7 linked regions of the Homo sapiens genome follow. The protein of the gene in region 3 purifies or fractionates together with the protein of the main gene of each other region. This does not show direct contact. Each region holds a gene or a part of one and is shown on either strand. Other genes may lie near its edges.

Evidence for each region.
Region 1: the proteins of CHAF1B (region 3) and WAPL purify together in Homo sapiens (affinity purification with mass spectrometry; one large-scale study listed by BioGRID and IntAct). This does not show direct contact.
Region 2: the proteins of CHAF1B (region 3) and BCL11A purify together in Homo sapiens (affinity purification with mass spectrometry, with the first as the bait; one large-scale study listed by BioGRID). This does not show direct contact.
Region 4: the proteins of CHAF1B (region 3) and CHD5 purify together in Homo sapiens (affinity purification with mass spectrometry; one large-scale study listed by BioGRID and IntAct). This does not show direct contact.
Region 5: the proteins of CHAF1B (region 3) and FBXO38 purify together in Homo sapiens (affinity purification with mass spectrometry; one large-scale study listed by BioGRID and IntAct). This does not show direct contact.
Region 6: the proteins of CHAF1B (region 3) and ARB2A purify together in Homo sapiens (affinity purification with mass spectrometry; one large-scale study listed by BioGRID and IntAct). This does not show direct contact.
Region 7: the proteins of CHAF1B (region 3) and BPTF purify together in Homo sapiens (affinity purification with mass spectrometry, with the first as the bait; one large-scale study listed by BioGRID). This does not show direct contact.

The regions. Positions count from the first base shown.
Region 1 is NC_000010.11:86,438,293-86,441,792, forward strand, and holds part of WAPL (wings apart-like protein homolog), read right to left. Parts: intron 1-3,500. UniProt on the Homo sapiens protein: Regulator of sister chromatid cohesion in mitosis which negatively regulates cohesin association with chromatin. Involved in both sister chromatid cohesion during interphase and sister-chromatid resolution during early stages of mitosis.
Region 2 is NC_000002.12:60,470,155-60,473,654, forward strand, and holds part of BCL11A (BCL11 transcription factor A), read right to left. Parts: intron 1-3,500. UniProt on the Homo sapiens protein: Transcription factor. Associated with the BAF SWI/SNF chromatin remodeling complex. Binds to the 5'-TGACCA-3' sequence motif in regulatory regions of target genes, including a distal promoter of the HBG1 hemoglobin subunit gamma-1 gene.
Region 3 is NC_000021.9:36,391,892-36,395,391, forward strand, and holds part of CHAF1B (chromatin assembly factor 1 subunit B), read left to right. Parts: intron 1-2,655; coding exon 2,656-2,759; intron 2,760-3,500. UniProt on the Homo sapiens protein: Acts as a component of the histone chaperone complex chromatin assembly factor 1 (CAF-1), which assembles histone octamers onto DNA during replication and repair.
Region 4 is NC_000001.11:6,170,322-6,173,821, forward strand, and holds part of CHD5 (chromodomain-helicase-DNA-binding protein 5), read right to left. Parts: intron 1-3,500. UniProt on the Homo sapiens protein: ATP-dependent chromatin-remodeling factor that binds DNA through histones and regulates gene transcription. May specifically recognize and bind trimethylated 'Lys-27' (H3K27me3) and non-methylated 'Lys-4' of histone H3.
Region 5 is NC_000005.10:148,439,458-148,442,957, forward strand, and holds the end of FBXO38 (F-box only protein 38), read left to right. Parts: intron 1-189; coding exon 190-335; intron 336-966; coding exon 967-1,070; intron 1,071-1,666; coding exon 1,667-1,780; intron 1,781-2,511; coding exon 2,512-2,690; 3' UTR 2,691-3,379; downstream 3,380-3,500. UniProt on the Homo sapiens protein: Substrate recognition component of a SCF (SKP1-CUL1-F-box protein) E3 ubiquitin-protein ligase complex which mediates the ubiquitination and subsequent proteasomal degradation of PDCD1/PD-1, thereby regulating T-cells-mediated immunity.
Region 6 is NC_000005.10:93,877,664-93,881,163, reverse strand, and holds part of ARB2A (cotranscriptional regulator ARB2A isoform 1 precursor), read left to right. Parts: intron 1-3,500. UniProt on the Homo sapiens protein: Plays a role in the regulation of alternative splicing, by interacting with AGO2 and CHD7. Seems to be required for stabilizing protein-protein interactions at the chromatin-spliceosome interface. May have hydrolase activity.
Region 7 is NC_000017.11:67,944,003-67,947,502, reverse strand, and holds part of BPTF (nucleosome-remodeling factor subunit BPTF), read right to left. Parts: intron 3,354-3,500; coding exon 3,131-3,353; coding exon of another isoform or gene 3,019-3,130; intron 2,095-3,018; coding exon 1,178-2,094; intron 1-1,177. UniProt on the Homo sapiens protein: Regulatory subunit of the ATP-dependent NURF-1 and NURF-5 ISWI chromatin remodeling complexes, which form ordered nucleosome arrays on chromatin and facilitate access to DNA during DNA-templated processes such as DNA replication, transcription, and repair.

The sequences.
Region 1 (3,500 bases), on a different chromosome or scaffold from region 3:
ACCCAGGCTGGAGTGCAGTGGTGTAATCTCAGCTCACTGCAACCTCTACCTCCTGGGTTCAAGTGATTCCCATGCCTCAGCCTCCCGGGTAGCCGGGATTAAAGGCACGTGCCACCATGCCTGGCTAATTTTTGTATTTTTAGCAGAGACGTGGTTTCATCATGTTGGCCAGGCTGGTCTCGAGCTCCTGGGCTCAAGTAATCCACGCACCTTGGCCTCCCAAAGTGCTGGAATTACAGGTGTGAGGCAGCATGCCGACCTACTTTCATAAATGCAAAGAAAAAGGCCTGAAATAACAAACTGCACTGTTTAATGTATGTGTGTGTTTCACTGGGGGCCCTGGGGGAATAGGAGAAGAGGGTGAGGACTTTAGACCTGAGAATGTACTCACAAAGCTGCTCATGAAATAAAAAGATCAAAGAAAAATTCACATCCTTCACAGATGAATTCAACTAATTATATAGGACAGGAATTAACTAGAAGCATCTTTCCAAAGGCAATCTAACCTCATCTATGATAGATTCTCAGACAATATCAGGAGAGAAAACCCTTCATTATTAGCAAGAAGCAGCCAAACTATATATAAACCAATCTGTTACATGGAAAACATTACACAACCTGCTTAAAAAACTATTTCATTAAAGAATGCTTTAAATGTTTTACGGAGAATAAAAAGAAAAAATCTTTTAGGAAGGTTCACCTGTAGTAAGGGGCAAAAGAAAGTATACTGTCCCAAGTTTGGGGACACAAGGTAAAGGGTTAAACAAAACCAACCAAAAAACAAAAAGAAAACACACAAAAGCTCCCAATTCGACTTTTGTTAGCGGGGGCAAAAAAGGAGAGATGACATATTTCTCTTCAGAAATTTGCCACTACCCACCCCCTTTTTCCTATTCCCATGCCAGGGTACTCGCAAAATTAGAAAGCAGCAAAAAAATGAGATGAATACAGCTTCAGAAAAGATCTAATCAAAACACTGCTAAAGTACTCATGTGCTGAAGATATCAGTTACACACATTCAAACTGATCCTCCCACCAAAAGCTATCACAGTGGTGGGCAAAATAGTGGCTAAGGTGTCTCTGGAGAACTGCTCAGTAGAAAAGTACGCCTCTGTAATAGAGAATATATGATTAGCTCCTATATTTTGGATGAAAGCCCCTCATTAATCCAAATCAAACCCTTCTCTATCAACACACTACAGAACATGACATACAGCGTTTCTGAGGCAATGGGAGGGACAGTGACAGCATTTTTTAACAGAATATAGCAGGTACAAAAAGAAAAGGCATGATACAGCATGGCCTATTTGAAAAATTTTAAAAGTGTCCAGTAGGTTTGGAAATTGGAGAAGCAGTCTTAAGTCCAGGGTCTTGCAACACTAAACAGTCATGAGTCCCCTTCCTGGCTGTGAGCCAAGGAAGACTGGGCAAGGAGCTACGTGATCAGTAAGTGCTCTGAAGTAAGTTAGCTCCAGTGGCAATGTGCAATGTCCCAGGAATGGAGGGGCAACAAAGCAGGAAGAGCAGTGAGGAGACTGACCACTGCAATGCACCAGCTGCAAAGTGAGAAGACATGGAGGGCAAGTGAAAATGGGATCAGACCACAAAGCAGCATTTACTGCAACAACCACATGCTTTCTTGTCTATCTCTTTTCACTTACACATTAGGTAAACCAAACTTCCTTTACATTTTGTGGTATCAGCTAGCTTTTTGGTGTTAATCATAATAATCTCCAAGGCAACAAATAAATCTGGGGCTCTATGAATTCACAACATTTCCCACAATTTAAGAACATTCTCTTTTTAGAGACAAGATAGATACAGGCAAACACAAATAGGAATTAGCATGGGAAAGATGGCCCAAGATAAATCATATGTGGTAATAACACAATTTCAAGAACGATTATGTAAGAAAGAACGTGACTGAAATATGACTAAACCTATAGTGTGTAAAAAACAGAGTATCTAAAAATCTTTAAATTTAAATATTATTTTCATTGCTTTTTTTTTTTTGAGATGGAGTCTCGCTCTGTTGCCCAGGCTGGAATGCAGTGGTGCGATCTCCACTCACTGCAAGCTCCGCCTCCCGAGTTCACGCCATTCTGCTGCCTCAGCCTCCCGAGTAGCTGGGACTACAGGTGCCCACCACCACGCCCGGCTAATTTTTTTTTTGTATTTTTAGTAGAGACGGGGTTTCACCGTTTCACCGTGTTAGCCAGGATGGTCTCGATCTCCTGACCTTGTGATCTGCCCACCTTGGCCTCCCAAAGTGCTGGGATTACAGGCGTGAGCCACTGCGCCCGGCCTTTTTTCACTGCTTTTGAGGCCTGCCTCTTCCTCCTTTCCTGTGTGTGATGGGTTTCTGATTTGCTCTTAAAATCTTGTCATTGGAAATAAGAAAAAGGGATATAAAGATCTTGCGGGGCCTCCAGAGCCACGATGAGAACTTTGGTCTTGATCCTGAAATCGGCGGTACCCAGAGGGGCCACACAGAGTGGGCTGTTGTATTTAGGTTAGTTAAAATGTTAAGTATGGAAGAGATGGACAAGATGGATTCAGAAAAACACACAGGACTTAGATACACAAAGTGAAAAAAAAAAAAAAAGGCAATACAAAGAATTAGATGGCTAAAGTAAGGAAACGTGGGGTGGGTAGATGGGCCCAGGTACACAGAGCCAGCATGAGTTCCTGCTCAAATAAAGCCATTCATTTATCATTAACTCTGTTCTTCCAGTCCTCCAGCTTCAAAAAGAGATGGCCCCTGCTTCCTGCTGAAACTAATGCCCCCCTCCTATAGGTCTCCACTCTTTCTTGTTCCCTCAATGCCCTTGCTCCTAGAAAACAATCTGCCTTCCATTTCAAAATCTGGCTTTACAAATGGACTTTACACTTAAAAATAATCCACCTATGCCCAACCCCCCATCTGAAAGAGAACACTCACAATGATTCTGCTGGACCCTTCTTCAACAGTTTTACCCTTCATATTTGTTTTTCCCAAGGCAGCAGACTATCCCCATAGTCACAACCTTTCACTTTCAGGCTGACTCAGCCTGATTGTCTAGACATTTGTATTTCTCCTAAGTGAATCCTGATGATCTAATCCACTCACAGTAATCCCATGTTCCCAGCCAGTGACTGGTTCAGACAAAAGCATTGTGACCCAATGCTGGCCAAGATGAGAAGTCTACCTGGTGAGGGGTGAGAGTGGCATGGGGTCCCACAGGGGAAATAAACAAACAGTTGTCTTAAAAAGATATGTATTTCCAGCCAATGCACCTATGAAAAAAAAAAAAAAACTATAGAGGAAGAGGCCCTATTACTGCTAGGCACTACTTAATTTGATGAGACACCTAGCTGTAGTCAGCACGGGACCATAAGGGCTAGCAGAGGACAACATGTGGAGGACAGCAGTTTAAAGAGAGAAATGGGGTGGGCACTGTGGCTCACACCTATAATGCCAGCACTTTGAGAGGTCGAGGCAGGAGGATCACTTGAGCCCA
Region 2 (3,500 bases), on a different chromosome or scaffold from region 3:
CTGCTGTTACCAGGCCTGCAGAGGGAAGCCCTGGTGGAAGCACCACCTAGCCTGAGAACATCTACAGAGACATTTCATCCTCTCTGACCCAAAACAAAATAAACACCACAAAGTGAACCAACACAAGCAGGAAGACCGGACTTAACAAACAAGTATGTCTACATTTGACTGTTTACGTCAAGTGAATTGAGAGTGTGGCGTAAAATTACTACAGATTTTGTCATGGTATTTTTCAATGAGAAATCTGAGAATCCATCTTTGCACTTGTTTTTGCCTCAGCCGTTCACTAAGTTTGCTGCCAAAACAGACATCCTTTTCTTAGGAAACACAGGCAACCCAGGTATCTCTGTGATCCCAGCATAAACGCAACAGGTACTTGGATCCTTGTATGGGGAGTATCAAATTTCAAATTCTCTGCCACTTACTCTGGGAAGAGACCCTGAAGTGCTTCAGCAGGCCTCCAGCAAGAAATGGGAGAACTGCTAACCTAATCCATGCCTAGCCCCTCGCATGAATCTCTTGTTGGCAAACTTGTCTACAAACCCATTAGCCCTAAACAAGCTGACGGCAGGACCAGATCTCTACAGTGTCTGGCCGTGTGGCAAAGTGAGGTCTCATCTGACTATCTGGCAGCATAGTTTGTTTTTGTTTTTGTTTTTGTTTTTGTTTTCTAAGTTGTAAAAAACCCTAGCTATCATCAAGTCTGTCCCTTCATTTTACAGATGGGGAAACTGAGGCCATGAGAAATTAAGTGACTTGCCCATGGCTACACTGATGATTAACCACAATGTGAAGATTAGAATTAATCTCCTGACTCCTGATCCAGTGGTCTTTCCTGGGAATTTGTCTCTTCCCCCCTGCTGCTCCTGCCGTGGTCTTCACTGCCCAACAAGAAGGTCCTGTTTCTACTGATCCATTAAGCAGTACTTAACCGTCTTGGGGGAGGGTCCAGCCCAGCAGCGCTACATGGGGCTTTCGAAAGGTGCCAATGAACTGACTTGGTCTCACAATTGGAAAACAAGGCCTGCTCTGCTGCCTGGGCCTCCTGGCCTCACCTTTGCTGTGTTCACCCTCTACCTCTGCTTCCCCTGCAGAATTAGACAGCTAAAAACATTTCTATCAGCCTAAGAAGCTATTTACTTTAGAAAAAAAGCACACTGTCTTTGTGAGACTCACCCTTGCATTTATCTTCCTTCAGGAAGAGGGTCAAAGCAAAGCCAACTGGGGACCCCAGCTGATTCTGCTGCTTCTTCCACTAAACACATCCATAATATTCTCTTTGGTAAGTAAAATCGACATTCCCACATGAACTGGAAATGCTAAATTGTTAATAGCCTCCCTAGGGCTTAACTTCTTGCTATGATGCCTTCAATTATTTCATCACGGCTTAGGCAAAGTAAAGTATCACAATTAATGCTTCTGAGCGTCAAACTCGAGGAGCAGCTCTGCCTTCCCAGGCCAAGGTGGGGAAAAGGAGCTGCCCCTGGTTGAGGGCCTCTTCTTTTCCCACCTTCGCTTTCATTCTCCCCAGCCAGAGATGGGCTCTGGTTGCTGGCTAGGAAGTGGGTGATCTAGTTATGTCCTCTTTTTTTCTTTGTTAGTGCTCTTAGGCAAGTGATTCTCACAGCGCAGACCCAGGCCCACCCCCGATCAGCATCACCTGGGAGTTTGTTCAAAATGCAAATTCTTGGGCACCACCTCAGACTTACTGAATCAGAAATTGAGGGTGGGGAAGCAGCCTTCTATGTTGAATAAATTCTCCAGGTGATTCTCATGCACACTCAAGCTGAATCAGCACTGCTGTCTTAGGGTAAGGGAAGTATGAACGCTGGAAGCTTTGAAATTCCCTGGGCAGAGACCCATGGGCCATGAGGCTGTTTTCCCTCCTGTCCAGGACCCACCTCCTTTAGGACTGGAACAGTCAAAAACAAATTAAGCTTAGGGAATCCCTAAGGATCCCTCCATTAGGAAATTCAGGTTCCACCCTCCGTCTGTCATTGATAAGGACAGGGAACAGGTCCAGGCTCTCCATCAGGTCCAGGGCCTTCTTAGCATGAGACAACACCCAAACCAGCTTGTGCCAGACAGATTGTGTCCTCACTGCTTCCATTAAAGCCGACATGTCAGCGAACGCAGCTGTGGCAACTGCACGGACACAGCAGGAACTGGACTCTTGTTTCCCTTTCTGGTCTCTCAAATGGGACACATTTCCCTTTTCTGACTCAATCTTTTTTCAAATGTCTTACACTTTTCTGGTGGAAGGTGTTTCAACCTGTTCTATTTCATAAAGGTCTCTCTAGACCCAGTATTTCCACTTGGGGCCTCAGAAATGCCTTACACATTATTAGGTTGCAAAGTTTCCTTATGGCTGAATTTAAAAATAGTGACTCTTATTTTTCAGGTTTCATTAAAAAATATGCAGCAAACTGGGAATGGCTTTGATTTAATGTTATACATTTGGTCACTTTACATTTCTACATATATTGGGTACCAACTTTTGACAAAGAGCTCTAAGCCCAGTGGGATGTTCCTGGAATTTAAGTCATTAAATCAAGTTTTTTGGTTTCCTCAAGAACATCTCAAAGATTCCTTGACTATTAACATGCTATTTGTTTCTGAAACTAATCACTGGGTGTGTAATACAGCCACATTACTGTCTACTAATCAACAGGTAATACTGCAGATTTCCAAATGTGCCAAAACAGCTAAGCAAAAAGCATCATTCCAACACGTTTAATGACTGCTTTGGGAGCCCAACTTTAACAGGTATTAAAACCACAGGACTCTCCACAGGAGTACATAGATGTGTGCTATTCACTAAAATGTACGTGTGTGTGTGTTTGCAAGCATTTATGTGTACATATGTGTGTTAGCGTGTGCATGCATATGTGTTTGTGAGCATGTGCATGTGTGTATATTGTGACTGTGTGCATGTGTGTGTATGCTTGTGCATGTGTTAGCATGTGCATGCACATGTGTGTTAGCGTGTTCATGTGTGTGTATATGTGAGTGTGTGCATATGTGTCTGTGTACGTGTGTGAATGTGTGTATATTTCCTAAACATATGTTTTTAGATAATTTCCCTGTTTTTTTTTTTTTTTCAGTGAGACAGGCACAAAAGCAGTAGAGCTGTCCCACGTGGAATGGGCTATCTCGTGACACTGTGACCCCCTTTCTTTCACCCTGGGTCTTCAAAAAGAGAATGGATGACACTATGATGAGGAGGGGTCTCTATATTGGTGACAGGCCAAAATACAGGACTACCTACAGTCCTTTCGCAGTCCATAATCCTCAAGTCCCTCAGCTCTTCCATGTACCACCTTCTAGACTACACTTAAAATGCATCCTGAACGTTTGTAAAGTACCCTGAAGGAACCCATTCCAGTTCTGAATCCGATTACTAGGTTCAAGCCACACAAATAACAACAGTGCAGCTAGTCTGAGCTAGAGGCTTCTTTACCTAACTGCAAAGTAAATGTCCTTTCTATTCAGCCGCATCT
Region 3 (3,500 bases):
CCTGCTGATTTTTAAATTTTTTTTTTTTTTTTTTTTTTTTTTTTTTAGTATTTATTGATCATTCTTGGGTGTTTCTCGGAGAGGGGGATTTGGCAGGGTCATAGGACAATAGTGGAGGGAAGGTCAGCAGATAAACAAGTGAACAAGGGTCTCTGGTTTTCCTAGGCAGAGGACCCAGTGGCCTTCCGCAGTGTTTGTGTCCCTGGGTACTTGAGATTAGGGAGTGGTGATGACTCTGAAGGAGCATGCTGCCTTCAAGCATCTGTTTAACAAAGCACATCTTGTACCGTCCTTAATCCATTTAACCCTGAGTTGACACAGCACATGTTTCAGAGAGCAGGGGGTTGGGGGTAAGGTTATAGATTAGCAGCATCCCAAGGCAGAAGAATTTTTCTTAGTACAGAACAAAATGGAGTCTCCTATGTCTACCTCTTTCTACACAGACACAGCAACAATCTGATTTCTCTATCTTTTCCCCACATTTCCCCTTTTTCTATTCGACAAAACCGCCATCGTCATCATGGCCCGTTCTCAGTGAGCTGTTGGGTACACCTCCCAGACGGGGTGGCGGCCGGGTAGAGGGGCTCCTCACTTCCCAGACAGGGCGGCCGGGCAGAGGCGCCCCCCACCTCCCGGACGGGGCAGCTGGCCGGGCGGGGGCTGCCCCCCACCTCCTGGACGGGGCAGCTGCCGGGCAGAGATGCTCCTCTCTTCCCAGACGGGGCGGCTGCTGGGCGGAGGGGCTCCTCTCTTCCCAGACGGGGCGGCTGCCGGGCGGAGGGGCTCCTCACTTCTCAGACGGGGCGGCCGGGCAGAGACGCTCCTCACCTCCCAGACAGGGCGGCGGGGCAGAGGCGCTCCCCACATCTCAGACGATGGGCGGCCGGGCAGAGACGCTACTCACTTCCTAGACGGGGTGGCGGCCGGGCAGAGGCTGCAATCTCAGCACTTTGGGAGGCCAAGGCAGGCGGCTGGGAGGTGGAGGTTGTAGCGAGCGGAGACCACGCCAGTGCCCTCCAGCCTGGGCAACATTGAGCACTGAGTGAGTGAGACTCTGTCTGCAATCCCGGCACCTCGGGAGGCTGAGGCTGGCAGATCACTCGCGATTAGGAGCTGGAGACCAGCCCGGCCAACACAGCGAAACCCCATCTCCACCAAAAAAATACGAAAACCAGACAGGCGTGGCGGCGTGCGCCTGCAATCCCAGGCACTCGGCAGGCTGAGGCAGGAGAATCAGGCAGGGAGGTTGCAGTGAGCCGAGATGGCGGCAGTACCGTCCAGCCTCGGCTTGGCATCAGAGGGAGACTGTGGAGAGAGCGGGAGAGGGAGAGGGAGACGGTGGAGGGAGAGGGAGAGGGAGAGGATTTTTAAATTTCTGTGGAGACAGGGTCTCACTATGTTGCCCAGGCTGGTCTAATTTAGAAGTTTTATTTATATGAAACAGTCCTAAGACAATAGTTTTAAAGGATGAAAGCATAATTAAAATGGATTTTCTTAGTTTCGGCTATACATTTTTCTTAGTAAAAAGTATTCAATTTTAAAGATACAGCTATCCTTTTTTTTTTTTTTTTTTTTTTTAGATGGAGTTTTGCTCTTGTTGCCCAGGCTGGAGTGCAATGGCATGATCTCGGCTCACCGCAACCTCTGCCTCCTGGGTTCAAGCGATTCTCCTACCTCAGCCTCCCGAGTAGCTGGGATTACAGGCCTGCACCACTATGCCCAGCTAATTTTTTTGTATTTTTAGTAGAGACGGGGTTTCTCCATGTTGGTCAGGCTAGTCTCAAACTCCCAACCTCAGGTGATCCGCCCACCTCGGCCTCCCAAAGTGCTGGGATTACAGGCGTGAGCCACTGCGACCGGTCAGATATAGCTATCCTTGAAAGTAGTTTTTTATAGCTATAGCTAATATAGTGCCAGTGGAAATTTTGGAATCTCATTTTAATGCTTAGTTCTGGAGATTGTCCTTATATTTTTGATAACTTGTCCGTTTTTGAGTTAATAATTGCTTTTTGTTTTGTTTTGTTTAGAGTCAGAGTCTCACTCTGTTGCGCAGGCTGGAGTGCAGTGGCATGATCTTGGCTCACTGCAATCTCTGCCTGCTGGGTTCAGGGGATTCTCCTGCCTCAGCCCCCAAGTAGCAGGGACTACAGGTGTGCGCCACCACACCTGGCTATTTTTTTTTTGGCTAATTTTTTTTTTTTTTTGAGATGGAGTCTCACTCTGTCGCCAGGCTGGAGTGTAGTGGCGCGATCTTGGCTCACTGCAATCTCTGCCTCCCAGGTTCAAGTGATTCCCCTCCCTCACCCTCCTGAGTAGCTGGGTCTGCAGGTGTGCACCACCACGCCTGGCTAATTTTTTGTATTTTAGTAGAGACGTGGTTTCACCATGTTGGCCAGGATGGTCTCGATCTCCCGACCTTGTGATCTGCCTGCCTCGGCCTCCCAAAGTGCTGGGATTACAGGCGTGAGCCACAGCACCTGGCTGATTTTTGTATTTTGAGTAGAGATGGGATTTTACTGTGTTAGCCAGGCTGGCCTTGAACTCCTGACCACAGGCAGTCTGTCTACCTTGGCCTCCCAAAGTGCTGGGATTACAGGGGTAAGCTGCTATACCTGGGGAGTAATTGCTTTTTTCCTCTTTGTTTTTGGATTCTAGGGGCCACTTAGAAGATGTGTATGATATTTGCTGGGCAACTGATGGGAATTTAATGGCTTCTGCCTCTGTGGATAACACAGCCATCATATGGGATGTCAGCAAAGGTAAATGATATATTTTTGTTATTAGCAGGAAGAAATATTCTAAGCATCTATAAAAGCCTAAAAGTCTAACTTGCTTTAACTTTTTTTTTTTTTTTTTTTGAGACAGGATCTCACTCTGCCGCCCAGGCTGGAGTGCAGTGGTGCGATCTTGGTTCACTGCAACCTCTGCCTCCTAGATTCAAGCGATCCTCCTGCCTCAGTCTCCCAAGTAGCTGGGACTACAGGCATGCACCACCACACCCAGTTAATTTTTGTATTTTTAGTAGAGACGGGTTTCATCATGTTGGCCAGGCTGGTCTCAAACTCCTAACCTCAGGTGATCTGCCCGCCTCAGCCTCCCAAAGTGCTGGGATTACAGGCATGAACCACTGCCCCTGGCCCTAACTTACCTTAACTTTATTTTTTATTTTTATTTTTTTGGAGACGGAGTTTCGCTCTTGTCCAGGTTGGAGTGCAATGTCACAATCTTAGCTCACTGAAATCTCCACCTCCCGGGTTCAAGCGATTCTCCTGCCTCAGCATCCTGAGTAGCTGGACTACAGGTGTCTGCCACCACACCTGGCTAATTTTTGTATCATTAACAGAGACGGGGTTTCACCGTTGGCCAGTCTGGTCTCTATCTCTTGACCTCAGGTGATCCACCCGCCTCGGCCTCCCAAAGTGCTGGGATTACAGGCATGAGCCACCACACCCGGCCTACTTGCTTTAACTTTAAAAGCAACACAAAAAATTGTTTTAGTG
Region 4 (3,500 bases), on a different chromosome or scaffold from region 3:
TCCTAAGCGGGGAAAGGGGGACAGGAGGGCTCCTACCCTGGGTCTCTGGGGCTCCCATGGCCCACACTATGGGTGCAGCTTTAGCCCCACTGTCCCCACTCCTCGGGGGCACCGGGGCTCTGGTGGCTGAGCGGACGCCCCTCCCACCCTTGCATCCCACGGGGCCAATGTGCACCAGTGGAAGGTGTTTGCACCAGTGGAAGGTGGGGGCTGCACCACTGTCTTGGTGCCTCTCTGCACCAGGGCCTCCCTCAAGGGTGGCCAGGTGCTTGGGGCTCCCACACAGGGAGGGCACCCTGTGGAGGGCTAGGGCACACAGGGGAGCCAGCAGCAAGGGCCGCCCCAGGTGGGTTTATGTGGGTGAGGCCCCAAGCAGCCAGGGGCAGGGGCTGGGCTGCTCCGGCTGACCCCACCCCATTCCTCTGATCACTAGTGTGGAAAGGCGGGGATTTTTCAAACCAGCTGAAAACGTGCACGGGGACCCCCTCGGAGTCGTCCTGCAGAGCAGGTGTCGGTGGGGCAGTGGCAGGGCTGGCGGGGAGCTGTCTGTGGTGGGGCAGCCGATGGGATGCCAGTCCACAACTGCCCGCTCTGCCACCGGGCCTCCGCCTCCCCCGCCACCGCAGGAGACCGCCTGGGCAGAGCCACCCCCACACCCTGGCGGTGCCCAGCACTGCTTATGTAACGGGCTCTGGCTGATGCAATCTCGAGGGGGGGCCTCTCCCTCCTGCTTCCTCCCAGCTGTCCCCTTCCGGCAGGGTGGTCCCAGACTTAGGAAACCCAGCCCAGCACATGGTCACTGACTGGTGGCCTGACCAACAGAACGGATGAGGGTATGCACAGGTGGCTGCCAGAAGTTCTGGAAGGAAGTCTGGGATCTGCCCGTGGGTAAGGGGAGGACAAAGGGGGACCCCTGCTCTGGCCCTAACCCACGCCCAGAACAGGCCTTCGAGGACAAGGCCCCAGACCCTCTGCCCATGGACAGACCCCAGCTCCGTTCCCAGAAGACCTCACAGCCCAGGGCCTCTGCCTGGTGAAACCCACCTCTGAGAAGGCTCTGGAACTGGCACACGGAGACGGGGACTCAGCCCTGCCTAACCCTGTCTCTGATGGGCCCTTCCTCTCCCCAGATGGCTTCTGGTGGGTGGCCCTGAGGTCACCACACGCCTGATTCTCTATGACACTGCCCCCCCCAACACCTCACACGCTCCCGTCTTCAGCCAAGCCCCAGCCCCTTTCTGCCCTTGGACACTCTCTGCTCCCGCAGCAGGTCCTGAGCTTTCTAAAACCAGATCTGGGGGTCACCATACAAGCAACTGCACGGTCAGCCTTTCCCCAAGCCCAGCCTGTGCCCTTGAGCCCACCAGTCCCTCCTCCCTATGGCTCCATCTGGTGGGGACAGAGCAGAGGCCCAGAGGGTTCCAAGACGCAGAGCATGCAGCCAGTGTTAAGGTGGCATCCTGCCCGTCCCGGGTGAGGGGCTCCAGGGAGGAGCAACCTCACCTCAGAACTCCTTGTCCTGCCAGCTCCTGGCCCCTCGTGGCTGCCCCACCACCCTCCTGGCCCACCTGGCAGTGCCCTCATGCACCAGCCCTAACCCTCCAGGGCCTGAGGCTCCACGGATCCAAGCCTGCTCTAATTAAGACCCATTACCCTGTGATCACCCACCTCCTGGGGGTGGAGGCGGGGTGGGGCTCAAGTCGACCAGAGGAAGGAGAGGCACCTTCTGCTGCTTTCTCCAGAGCTCCCTCAGCCCCTCTCTAGCTCCCAGTATGCGCCAGCTCAGCCCTGTGGGACCCCCAGGCTGGCCTAGGCTGAGCCACTGCAGGCTGCGGCCAGGCCGATGAGGTGGGCCCTTCTCAGGGTAGCGCATTGCAATAGCAGCAGTCGTGATAACTGCATACCACCTGCCAGGCTCGTGCCAGGCCCAAAGTACCTAGGACTGATTAATTTGTATCAGTTCAACACAGCAACTCAGAGAGGGGTACTATTCTTTCTGGTTTGGGGCTTTATTTATTTATTTATTTATTTTAGAGACAGAGTCGCTGGCTGGAGTGCAGTGTTATGATCATGGCTCACTGCAGGCCTCGACCTCCTGGGCTCGAGCGACCCTCCCACCTCAGCCTCCTGAGCAGCTGGGACAACACGCACAACCACCACACCTGGCTCAGGGTTCTATTCTTATCCCCATCTGCAGATTGGGAAACTGAGGCTCAAAGGACCTCATTATTTACCTACATCTCAGTCCTACAGCTGGCAGTGGTGAAGCTGCCACTGTTTGAACACAGGCAGTGGGCGCCCACCCCCTTGCGAAGTCTCTCCCCCAGCACCCTCCCACTGAAACAGCCCACGCTGTGTAAACCGGCTCGGTGGATGCCCTGGGGACACTGAGGTGACTCAGGCTGGTCTGTGGTCTGGCAGGTCACAGGTCCCTCAAGGGGGTCAAGGCTGGTTCACCACACTAGTCCCCCTGCACACAGCCCCACAGCTCTGCCAGACCCAGGCTCCAGCCCCTCACTCCTCTGGGGAGGGGCAGCAGCAGAGCAAGGACGCAGCCGCCAGGGCACTTGGCAAACACAAGGTGATCAAAACAAGGGGAAGGCGCGTGACTGTGGAGCGAAAGTTAGGTCATCTGATTCTGGGTGGTTGAAGGATTTGCAGGGGCCAAGCCAGGAGCTGGGACGAGAACACCATCACCAGGTTGCAAAGGCCGGCAAACCTGCCAAGGACAGGGACCCCACTCAATGTCCACCACTCTCTCCAGGACCTGGGGAGAGGCGTTATTTCTTTTTTTTTTTTTTTAGACGGACTCTCGCTCTGTCACCCAGGCTGGAGTGCAGTGGCGCGATCTCGGCTCACTGCAAGCTCCGCCTCCCAGGTTCACGCCATTCTCCTGCCTCAGCCTCCCAAGTAGCTGGGACTACAGGTGTCCGCCACCACACCCGGCTAATTTTTTGTATTTTTAGTAGAGCCAGGGTTTCACCATGTTAGCCAGGATGGTCTCGATCTCCTGACCTCGTGATCCACCCGCCTCGGCCTCCCAAAGTGCTGGGATTACAGGCATGAGCCACCGCGCCCGGCCGAGAGGGGCTATTTCTGTTCCCCACCTGGACTCCCCAACCAGCAACAAGCAGAGAACAAGGCCACCAGGAGGTCAGGAGGAGGGAGCAACAGGGGCAGCAGAGGCTTCAAGCTACCCCTCCTGGAGGTGATACCAGCAAGTCCCCTCCCCACTGAGCCTCTCTCTTCATCTGTGAAATGGGCCTAATGTGGCAGCCTTTCCCCCAGGGCTATGGGGAGAAGTAAAAACTGTGAATGCAAAGGACCCACACGATGCCTGCAGGGGCTCAGCAATGGCAGGCAGAGCCCAGCGAGACCCAGGAGGGTCAGGGCGGCAGTGGTGAAGGGCAGAGGGCAGCGGTCTCTAGTTTGGCCACTGCTGGGCCAGAGGTTCTCAGGGCCACCCTAGACGCTGGCCAAGGAGTTCTCAGGCTGCCGTT
Region 5 (3,500 bases), on a different chromosome or scaffold from region 3:
GACAGAAGAATTTGCAAAATTATTCCCAGCATGACAGACTGTTTTCAGGTCTGAATGTGACTATTTGATTTTCAAATCAGCCAGAGATTTCAAAACTGAAGGTCCATGGAAAGATTGTTCAAGCTCTCGGAGAGAGATTTCTAAGGCATTCTCTTTGTTGAAGACATCTCTTTATGATGTCTTCCACAGGTGGACACTCTAACTTTGGAGCAGAAGCTATTTAGTGGTCCCTACCCCTATCACATCTGTATTATCCATGAATTCAGTAACCCTCCCAATGTCCGGAATAAGGTGCGCATTCGCAGCTGGATGGACACTATAGCAAACATCAATCAGTAAGTAACTTTGTGGCCCTTAAAGGCCTTTTGAGTCATTTCTCATAGCAGGGACTCCCAGAAGCAAATCCCAATTTTTCTTTATTTTAAATGATTCCATCTAAGCTTTTCAAACAAGCTTATCCTGAAGTTAACGTAAGTAAGAAACTGAGGGAAATGAGGACTTAAAACTAAAAAGCATGTGTATATATTTATGATCTTTAAAACTCAGGTAAAAATTACAAGAACAGATTGCACATGTACTTGTAACATTATTTAGCCTTGGGGCATGAAAAAGAGATCAACTTGAAGAAGATCTTAAGACTATGATATTCTATATCATCAGAAAATTTGACTTTTATAAATTTGTTATATAAATGTTGCATTAAGCACCTTTTGTGTAGAAGACATATGCTTAGAAAGTGACTTTCTTTCCCTGATATGATTTTGAAGATAGTGAAGAAAGTAGTTTTGACCTGACTACACTTGGATTCTCTAGTTTGAGTGTATCCTACTTCCGTTAGGTATTTGATGTTTTGTTTGAGATGTTCGGTAGAATCTGTGTCCGAAACAGTTTTGATGGTTCCTTCCTACCCGACACTAATTATTTCCAGTTTTGTAATTTTTACTTAATTTTTCCTGTTGCTTCCAGAGAGCTCATTAAATATGAATTCTTCCCTGAAGCCACTCGAAGTGAAGAAGACTTAAAGAAATACCCCAAGTACCCCTGGGGGAGAGAAATCTATACTTTAGAAGGTGAGTATTTACAAATGTTTAGAAAGTTAAATAGCCTGTGCAGTACTTACCTCTGTAATCCCAGCGACTCAGGAGGCTGAGGTGGGAGGATCACTTGAGCCCAAGAGTTCAAGACCGGCCTGGGAAACAAAACCTGGCCCTTTCTCATTCACGGATGAATGAATGATCCATCAATCAATTAGTCAAACTGGTTTGGGCTTACAGCAAGCAGTAACCCAAATGTAGAGAATTACACTTTTTAAAAAAAGAAAGTTGAATAGCTATTAACTAGATGACCGAACATGCCTTAGGGAAGATATGAATGGGGGTCCTACAGTTCTTCAAAATATGGATGATTTTAATACCTGCAAGAAGTGGGAGCCAGATGAAGATTGCTTTGCCTGTATGAGTCTTTACTATTTCTAGGACAATCAGAACCAGTGATGAAACATAAAACGTAAACAGAAATTACAAATTAGTTTGATAGCTGGAAATGATTTGAGGACACCTGACTCACTCTCTTTATTTTATATTTTACATTCTGCTTACAAAATACTGCAGAATTTGGCTCTGTCAGCACTCCCACGCCAGTTAGCAATGTTACATTTGTCTTTTAGGTGTTGTGGATGGAGCTCCATATTCCATGATTTCTGACTTCCCTTGGCTGAGGTCATTACGAGCTGCAGAGCCCAACAGCTTCGCTCGATACGACTTTGAAGACGATGAAGAAAGTAATTATGACCTGACTTGACATCTATTCTCTAGTTTAAGTATAGCCTACTGTGTTACATACTTAATATCTTTTTGTGAGTTAGGAGCAGTGCAGTGTTAAATGGTTTCCCATAGAAATAATTTGTATTTACTCACTTCAAAACAGTTCTTTATTTGTGCAGTAGATGTTCAGTGGACTTACTAGGGATATATAAAGGCTGGTAGAAAGGATTCCTTTAGACAGATTTTCCTACAAGATTTTTATATTACCTAAATATTTATAATCTTATTTATTAAATAACTTCAACTATATTGTTTCAAAATTGTTCCAATTGTATTATTCTCCTGCTAGTTATGAGCTGCTTATTGTGTGGAAACTTATAATTTAGGTGTAGAAATTAGGGGAGAAATTTTTGAATGTAGTTTCTCTAAGTGGTAGCATACTTGAATATTTATTGTTAACCAAAGGTTTTTTAAAAATACTTTATAAGGAAATGGATTTTATGAACTACATGTGCATGTGTCTGACTTGCCTTTGGTGCAGTATTTTTACCTTGAGACTTTAAGCATGTATTCTGTCTTAGGCATCAAACATAAGAACAAACTGGTGGTGACCCATTCCTTGACCTATTCATGCATCAGTTACATTATAGTGCAGTATATGGGACTGTCCTATGGACCAGCTTATCAGTGATTTTCCAAATGATTCTGATTATCATATGTATCTCTCCTTTTATTTCTAATTTCAAAGGCACTATCTATGCTCCTAGAAGGAAAGGACAGCTGTCTGCAGACATCTGTATGGAAACAATAGGAGAGGAAATTTCAGAGATGCGTCAGATGAAGAAGGGTGTATTTCAGCGAGTAGTGGCAATTTTTATCCACTATTGTGATGTCAATGGAGAGCCAGTTGAAGATGACTACATTTAATTGGTCCCTCCTCCTTTCCAGCTATTTTGTCAGAAAGCAAGTAGGGCCATCCAGCTGCCAGAGTGCTCCACAGGGACTTGAGGCATGCAGTTGGGAGGTCCTGGCTCGGTTTGCTATATAGGGAATATATAAGGAACATCGAAATTGTATACAAAGATTTGTACATAAAAAATATACAAAGACGCTTCCTAAAGTACCAACTTTATATCATATGTTTATACAATTTAATTTAAAAATTCATTTTAAGGAAGACAGATAATTTGAAAGACTTTTGTTTTTCTTGACTTAATTCATGAAGTATCATTTTTTGACTGAGTCTCCATTTACTTCATTCTTAATGATTATTGTCATCCCTTTAAATCTGTGCCTTTTTCTTCTTGAGCGAAGCTGTTTGAGTAAACCTGTTGAAGAGTGTTTGTGTCTTTTGTGCTTTTTTGTTGTTATTAAAACACCAACTAAACCTTATAGTCAAGACAAGGCTCTATGTTTCTGTACAAAGCTGTAGTTCTTTCTTAGTATTATAGTTGCCATGTTTCTTAAAATCAAGTAAAAAGACTTATGAGCTTAAAAAAAAGTGAGTTTGAGAGGGAAATGGAAAAGTTTCCAGAGTATTTCTAGTAATTTATTTCCACATTGAATTGTGTATATGCTTTATCTTGAATATAAAATAAAAGTTTATTAAAAACTTTTCTCTTGCCTTGGACCTGAATCCCTCTTTTTAAAGAAGAGTAGCAAATACTGCACAGAAAAGCAGTGTATATATAGAGTTGTATCTAAGGTAAGATTCCAGTGTAATCCAATTTCTGATCT
Region 6 (3,500 bases), on a different chromosome or scaffold from region 3:
GCCAATTCAGTTTCCAAACACGCTGTTTCTTTAAGGAAACATAGCATCAGCATAACATGCCGTTATGTTGTCCATAAGAGAGAGTATATGTAGCCTCACAATTCTAAGACATATCACCTGCTGAATTAATAATGCTCCATACAAAACATTCATCTTGGGGGGTAAGGTTTACTGGATAATGCATTGTTTTACGATGAGCAACTATCTACAGTGTCTCAGCCTAATGTCTAAAGGCAGATAGAGGGAGGAAGAGTAATTAATATCTTAATAAATACTTAAGCCAAAATAGTGTAGGGATAGTGTAATGAGGGAACTCTGTCCTTTTCTCTTGTCCTACCCAGCGAACTTTTACACTTTGTAGTACTAACGGTATGGGATCATTAGAGCAGTGTTGCCCAAGGATTTCTAATTCTGTAGGGGGCACAAACAATTTTGTTTACACTTGGACATATTCAGAATGTTGACATGCATACTATAAATTATATATATGAGACATTTGTCAATTTTCAAAGCCCTTATTATGGATGCTAGAAGTTTAATAGTAAAGCATGTCGAAAATGCTACGGGTTAAGAAAAATAGTATATTGAAATAGTCCTCAAAAGTGAGCAATTCAGAACATTTAAACACAGAGAAAATAACGTTTTATAAATTATACAATAGGATAGTAGTAACATTTCAAATTATTCAACTTGAACTATTTTTACATTTACTTTAGAAGATCATTAATAAAATGTTTCATACTACCTTTTAGGGGAAATATATTGCTTTCTAAGTTTTTATTTTCTGTATTATTCTAGTTCATGGCATAATCACTCTACTTTTTGGAATTGTGCTTTAAACATTCAAAATATTTTATTTATAGGTCAGTCTATTGAGTAAGCTATGACAGTTAAGCAGTGGTGAAAACAGCATATATATTCCCAAGACCCCAAAAATGTATCCTGACAAGGAATTCTCAAAGCAGCTCATATAGTGAATCAAGCAGATTATAATATTTAAATTTTTAGAAAGCATCTCACTATTTAATATATTATTTGAAAAGCAAGAACGCTTATTATATTTAGAAGCAATAAGTAGCTTGTTTGTTCCAATGCGGTTATATCACCCCCTTTCTTTCATATGATTACATCGGGGTCATGATGTTACCATCTTCTCTATCAGTTGTACTAAGCTTCCTTCTATATGATCCAGTCTGTAAACCACCATCTTATGACAGGTTAAAATTTTTAAAAGATTACCTCTGATATCCAGATTCCAGAAATGAATTATATAAGGCTTTTGAAATATAAAATTATAAGGAATACCTACTTGTTTATGTAAAATGCAAACAAAATGATATTGTATATTAGGTTTATTTCTTCTTAAACAATTTTTTTTTGCCTGTGACATGTACAGATTAAGCATCTATCTCAGATATCAGACATCTGTCCCGTAAGTTTATTTCTTCCTATTTTGTCTTTATCTTGTCACCATTGCTTTGCTTTTTTTCTTTTGTTCTCTTTATGCATGCATTTTCTTTATTCTGTTTTTCACATCTGCTTTGTTTTTCCTCTCATCTATTTTTTCTTATACCAAGGAAACAACATTCTTTTTATGTTGCTTCATTGTTAAGACCTGCTCTCTTTCCTTTTGTTTTCTTTTTAATTATTTTCTCTCTTTTAGACTCCTGTCATTTTTCCCTCTTTTCTAAGTCTTTTTGCCTCTTTGTCCCATTTCACTCATCAATTCAAGTTCCCAACAAAAGCACCAAAAGACAAAAATAGGCCCAAACACATAATACAACTTTGTATCGATGGTCTTAGTTATGAAATGTTTTTTCTTAGTAAACATCATTTCTCTTAAAATCTTCTGGAATTTTGCAAAATAGCAGAGATGTGCTGACACTCTTCAAACATACTTCTAGATAGTAAGTTTTGGCCTTGTAGTGGGAAAGAGAAGAACGGTTCATTTTGTGTGAGGTGTATTAATTCCTTAGTAATTTTGATCCATTCTGGAAATGACTTCTGCTAGTGCTCTTCTTCTCTCTACTTATCTCCCAATACCAAGTGTTTGTAATTTTCAGACACAGAGCATTTTATATGATGGAACTAAACTAACTTTTATTTATATACTTCTTACCAATTTACAATTTGAAATTATCTTCTATTCTTTGTGACAGCCTAATAGGTAGATGAATCACATCATTTTGTCCTGATTTTATAGTTGGAAACTGATGCACAAATGTTAGTCTAGGATCACAAAGCTAGTAAATGGTAGATAATAAATCTACTTGTTGAAACCAGGACTAGTAATTACTGTAGATTCTTCCCCTCTTTCTTCTTTACCACATTGTTCTGTAGATTGAAAACAAAATATGTATCTGAAATTTGAAAATTAAGCCATGTGTAGTAAATGTATGATACAATATAGTAAACAACATTTGATGACAAAGATAGATTTTTGATCAGCTATTATTTAATGGACTCTGTTTCTTAAATGTTTATAAACAATTTATATGTATAAATGTAAGTATTTCTATAAATATGTATATATATTTATATATTCTCTACAAATAGTATGACTAATACTGATCCAAATTTACAGATCAGATTGTGGGTCAAAAATTTTTAGCTTTTGGAGGGTGGAAACTCAGTCTGAGGACCCTGCCCCAGGAGCAGGAGCTATCATATCCTCCCCTCTGCCACTTTCCATTGCAACTAATAAAGCCTGTTTGTACCATAAACACACACACACACACCCCTTTGAGTAATTTTTCAAAGGTCACATAGCTCTTAATATAAGCTTCATGAGGGCATGTACTTAGTCTGTTTTGCTCGCTACTGTATCCCAGAGCCTACAACAGAGCCTTCATAATAAATATTTGTAGAGCAGATCTTTCACAATAAATTTTAAATAAGGTGGTAGAGCCAGGATTAAAACCCCTCACTACAACTACCACTTTTTAAAATATGTCCTGCATTATTAAAGTATACAGCTTGATTTTCTATGAGGAAACATTCCAACAAACCAAAACAAAAAGTCAAACAGCACTACAATTGTTGACTTCCCACTCAATCCAGTAGCTGAGATTACAATCCAAAAATTAATGGTATAAGGTCATTATTTGATACCTTGAACTATATATTTTCATCTGAATATATAAAAGTAGAATATCCTATTTTCCTTTTGAGCTATGTCATTATACTGCTAAAATTATGGATGAAAATGGAAATGTTTCAACCTGACCCATTGCAATTTCTGTGTTACACATTTGCTCTTAAGAGTACAGCCAGGCTGCTGGGGTTACTCTACCCTGTACAAACTTTGTGCTTTATGGAATCTGTAACTTCAATTTCTGTTCTTTCCTGAATCCAAAATTCTATCCACTTACAACCCACGTTATAAGTGCCTAGCTGAAATGCCACCTCTTCCTCTCACTATAACCGATGACCCCTCCTTACTGAGACTCATGGAATGTATAATGATTAGCTAATTTACATGGAATTTACCAGGTACTGTC
Region 7 (3,500 bases), on a different chromosome or scaffold from region 3:
TTACAACAACACTGAACCATAGCAATAATTTTATAAACAAGATACTGAGACATAAAGAAATTAACCACCTTGTTTGACAAACAGTAAGTAATACAGCTGAAATTTTAACCTGGCTATCCTTCTCCAAAGGCCGTATTTTTAACATTATGCTTTCTTCCCAGGAATGAATTTTAAAGAACTGTCCCTCGTCTCCCCTATACAAAGATTAGCGGATAGACAGACAGTGTAGTAATTCTCAGTTTATAGATACACAGTAAAGCTGGGTAATAATACATTTAAATATAATATATATGACCGTCATTTTCATAAGAATACTACATCTTTAAAATAACTTCGCTGTGTAAAAAGTGCTTCTACATTTATGACCTCATTTAATCATTGCAATAATCTCATGTGGCTGGAAAGAGAAGGGTTTTAAGAGGCTATAGCTAAGGAGGGATAAGTGAGTTTCACGGACTGTGAATGGGAGACCTAGGAACTGAATGAAGGTCTCACAACTTGGTAACACTTAAAATCCACATTCAAACTCCTGCCTAGTGCTGAGCGAAGCAAGCTATAGGTAGATGAAAAGATGGTTTCTGCCAGTAATGTTATCAGATGTTATATGTGTGACTTCACTTTAGTAGACTAATTCTAACTCATCTAAATTGCTTTATTTCACTAATGTGCCATTGCAAGATGTTGCTGGATGATGCCACTTTTTACTTAAGCTATGAAATAATATGTTTTCAAAAACTTTTTTACAAAGGTGTGGCTAGAAATGCAAATGAGTTTAATCTGTCTATAATTTGCATAGTCTACATGCAAACTAAGGAATGACAACTTTCAATAACTTTAAAGGAATTGCTATAATGTCTGAAGTGGCTTTAAAACTTAGTTAAACCCTCAAGTTTTATATTAAAGATTAAAGCTCATAACTCCATTCTTCCCATCTTAGTCCTCCCAAAATACAGGTCATTCCTAATAAGCACTGACTATATATTATATGTATCTAACGAAGTGTTCCACACCACAGTAGTCATTCAGTATTTTTTTTGGTCAATTCAGTGTTTCTTCTAAATTTAAACATTAATGACTTTGTCTCATTTAGGAAACCTAACACAACCAAACACTAATTCTACTGCACAGCACAATAATTCAAGCTACTGAACATGCTGCTTTTACTTAATAACTTTACCTGTTTCTGAATGATTTCACTTTGATTAGAAGCTTGGAGGGTGTGTTCACGCTTAATTTCTATCTGTTGCTGTTTCTTCTTTTGCTGCTGATCCCTGAGTTGCTGAACCCTTTGCAACTGCTCTTGCACACTGGCTGCCTGCACTGTAACCACATTCTGAATCTGGTGAGTCTGCACAGCACTGCTTTGCTGAATTTGGATAGGTAACTGGAGTTTGATTTGCTGGGGCACACCACTTTGCTGAGCCTGTATCTGAGCCACAACCTGTGACTGGATCTGAGAGAGAACCTGGACTTGTTGTTGCAGCTGAGGCACAGCAATGACTTGGGGCTGTGGCTGCTGTATTTGTAGCTGAGGACGGGATGGGGATGAAACAGTAACTTGATTTAAAGTTTGTCCTGATGAAAGAGTTTGAGTTGAAGACTGTACCTGGGGTTGTGACTGTGGCTGGCCTTGGGAAGGTATCTGAAGAGATGTATGTGGTTGAATTGGAATCGGTTGTGAGGTTGTAGTCTGAACCTGGGATTGTTGTCCAGGAGACAGTTGGGATGGAGTTGATGGACGTATTCGAGTCTGTGATGGACTTTGGACACGAACAGGAGACTGTCCTTGGACATTACTTTGAGGCTGAGACTGTGCTGCAACTTGGGGCTTGGATGACTGTGCGTGGGTGGGTTGTGCTTCAGAAGGGACATGGGATGAAACAGTTGTTTGGGTCTGAACTTCAGGCTGAGTCTGAACTTCAGGCTGAGCTGGGGACTGGGGCTGGGTTTGGGGCTGGGGCTGAGCTGAAGGCTGAGCAGTCTGTGGCTGGGCTTCTGCTGGACCCACACTTGATGACTGAGCTGGTGGCAGGGTTTTGTCTTGATGTACCTGCATCTGGGGTGACAGTTTACTCTGCCTTTGTTCACCTGTACCTGTAAAAAGGAAAGATGAACCATTTCTATTACTCTGGAACATAAAACTGTGGTTAAAGAAGAATCTGAAGGAAATCTTCTGAAGTTGAGAATTCTGGCCAGGCGTGGTGGCTCACACCTGTGCACCTTGGGACGTTGAGGTGGGAGGATCGTTTGAGCAACATAGTGAGACCCCGTCTCTACACAAAAACAAAAAAAATAAAAAATTATCTGAGCATAGTGGAGCATGGCTATGGTCCAAGCTACGTGGGAGGCTGAGGTGGGAGGATTGCTTGCGTCCAGGAGTTCAAGGCTACAGTAAGCAGTAATGGTGCTACTTCGCTTCAGCCTGGGCGACAGAGCAAGACCCTGTCTCGAAAAAATAAATAAAGTAAATAAAGTTGAGAATTTTGTATTTTGGTACAGAAGGTCTATGCCTTTGAAATGCTCCATTTGGACACGCTTAGGGCAGGACGCTCTGAAACTGGGAAGCCTGGGCCCTGCTTCTTGGCTGTCCCCTGTACACTCTCCTAACTCTAGAGGGCTGGTTTCCAAAGTAAGTTGCAGCCTCTGGAAATCAGCTGGGTCATCTGGCCCAGGCTAATTGCCACGCTTCACTTTTCTCCCATGATGTGGTGGTAGTTAGTTACAATGACTTGCAGCAGAAGGTCAACAAAGTGGTTCTGGACCCACTCTCAATCTGAGGTCATGAACTGGATTTACCCACCCTCCCTGAGATCACCTCCATGACTGAATCAGCACCTACAAGGCTTAGCAAGGAGTAAGTGTGGGCATAGTTACCAAGATAACCATTATTTTTGCCCCCTTTCTCTCTCTCTCTTTTTTAATAGGAGGGAGAGGGTGGTGGTAACAGGGAGTCTGTAAGAATAGGGTACAAAAGCTTCGAGACGTTGTGAGGCTGACTATGTCAACTGTTGAGGTCACTGGCTTGAGGCATATCCTTCCAAAGGTAAATACTGGTTCTCCTGTTGGCCTCTGTTAGCCCAGCCACGTGTAGTAGTAACATCCGACATTTCCGATAAACCCACAGCTCTACCTGCTGCTGTCGTGGAAACAGTGGTGGTGGTGGTGCTGGCTGTGGTGGCTGTTGTTGCCAATGGGGTAAAGAGGAATCGCTGAACAGTACCATTTGGCATTGCAGCTTGCATTAGCTGCTGGCCTGGGCCTGGGAGTACAGTCACCCCTTGAGGTATCAACTGCAACTGTCCAGTAGTTTGACCTTGTCCTTGAATTACTACTGTCAAACCTTGATTGCCACCCTGTGGAAAAAACACAACATGTAAACAGTGTTCAAAGCATCAATCTGTATGTATATCATTTTTATTAAATCATTTTTATGTGTAATTATCTTTTAATATAATGAAAATACATATTTGAATGTCACCAGCAGGAATTTAGATAAGCTA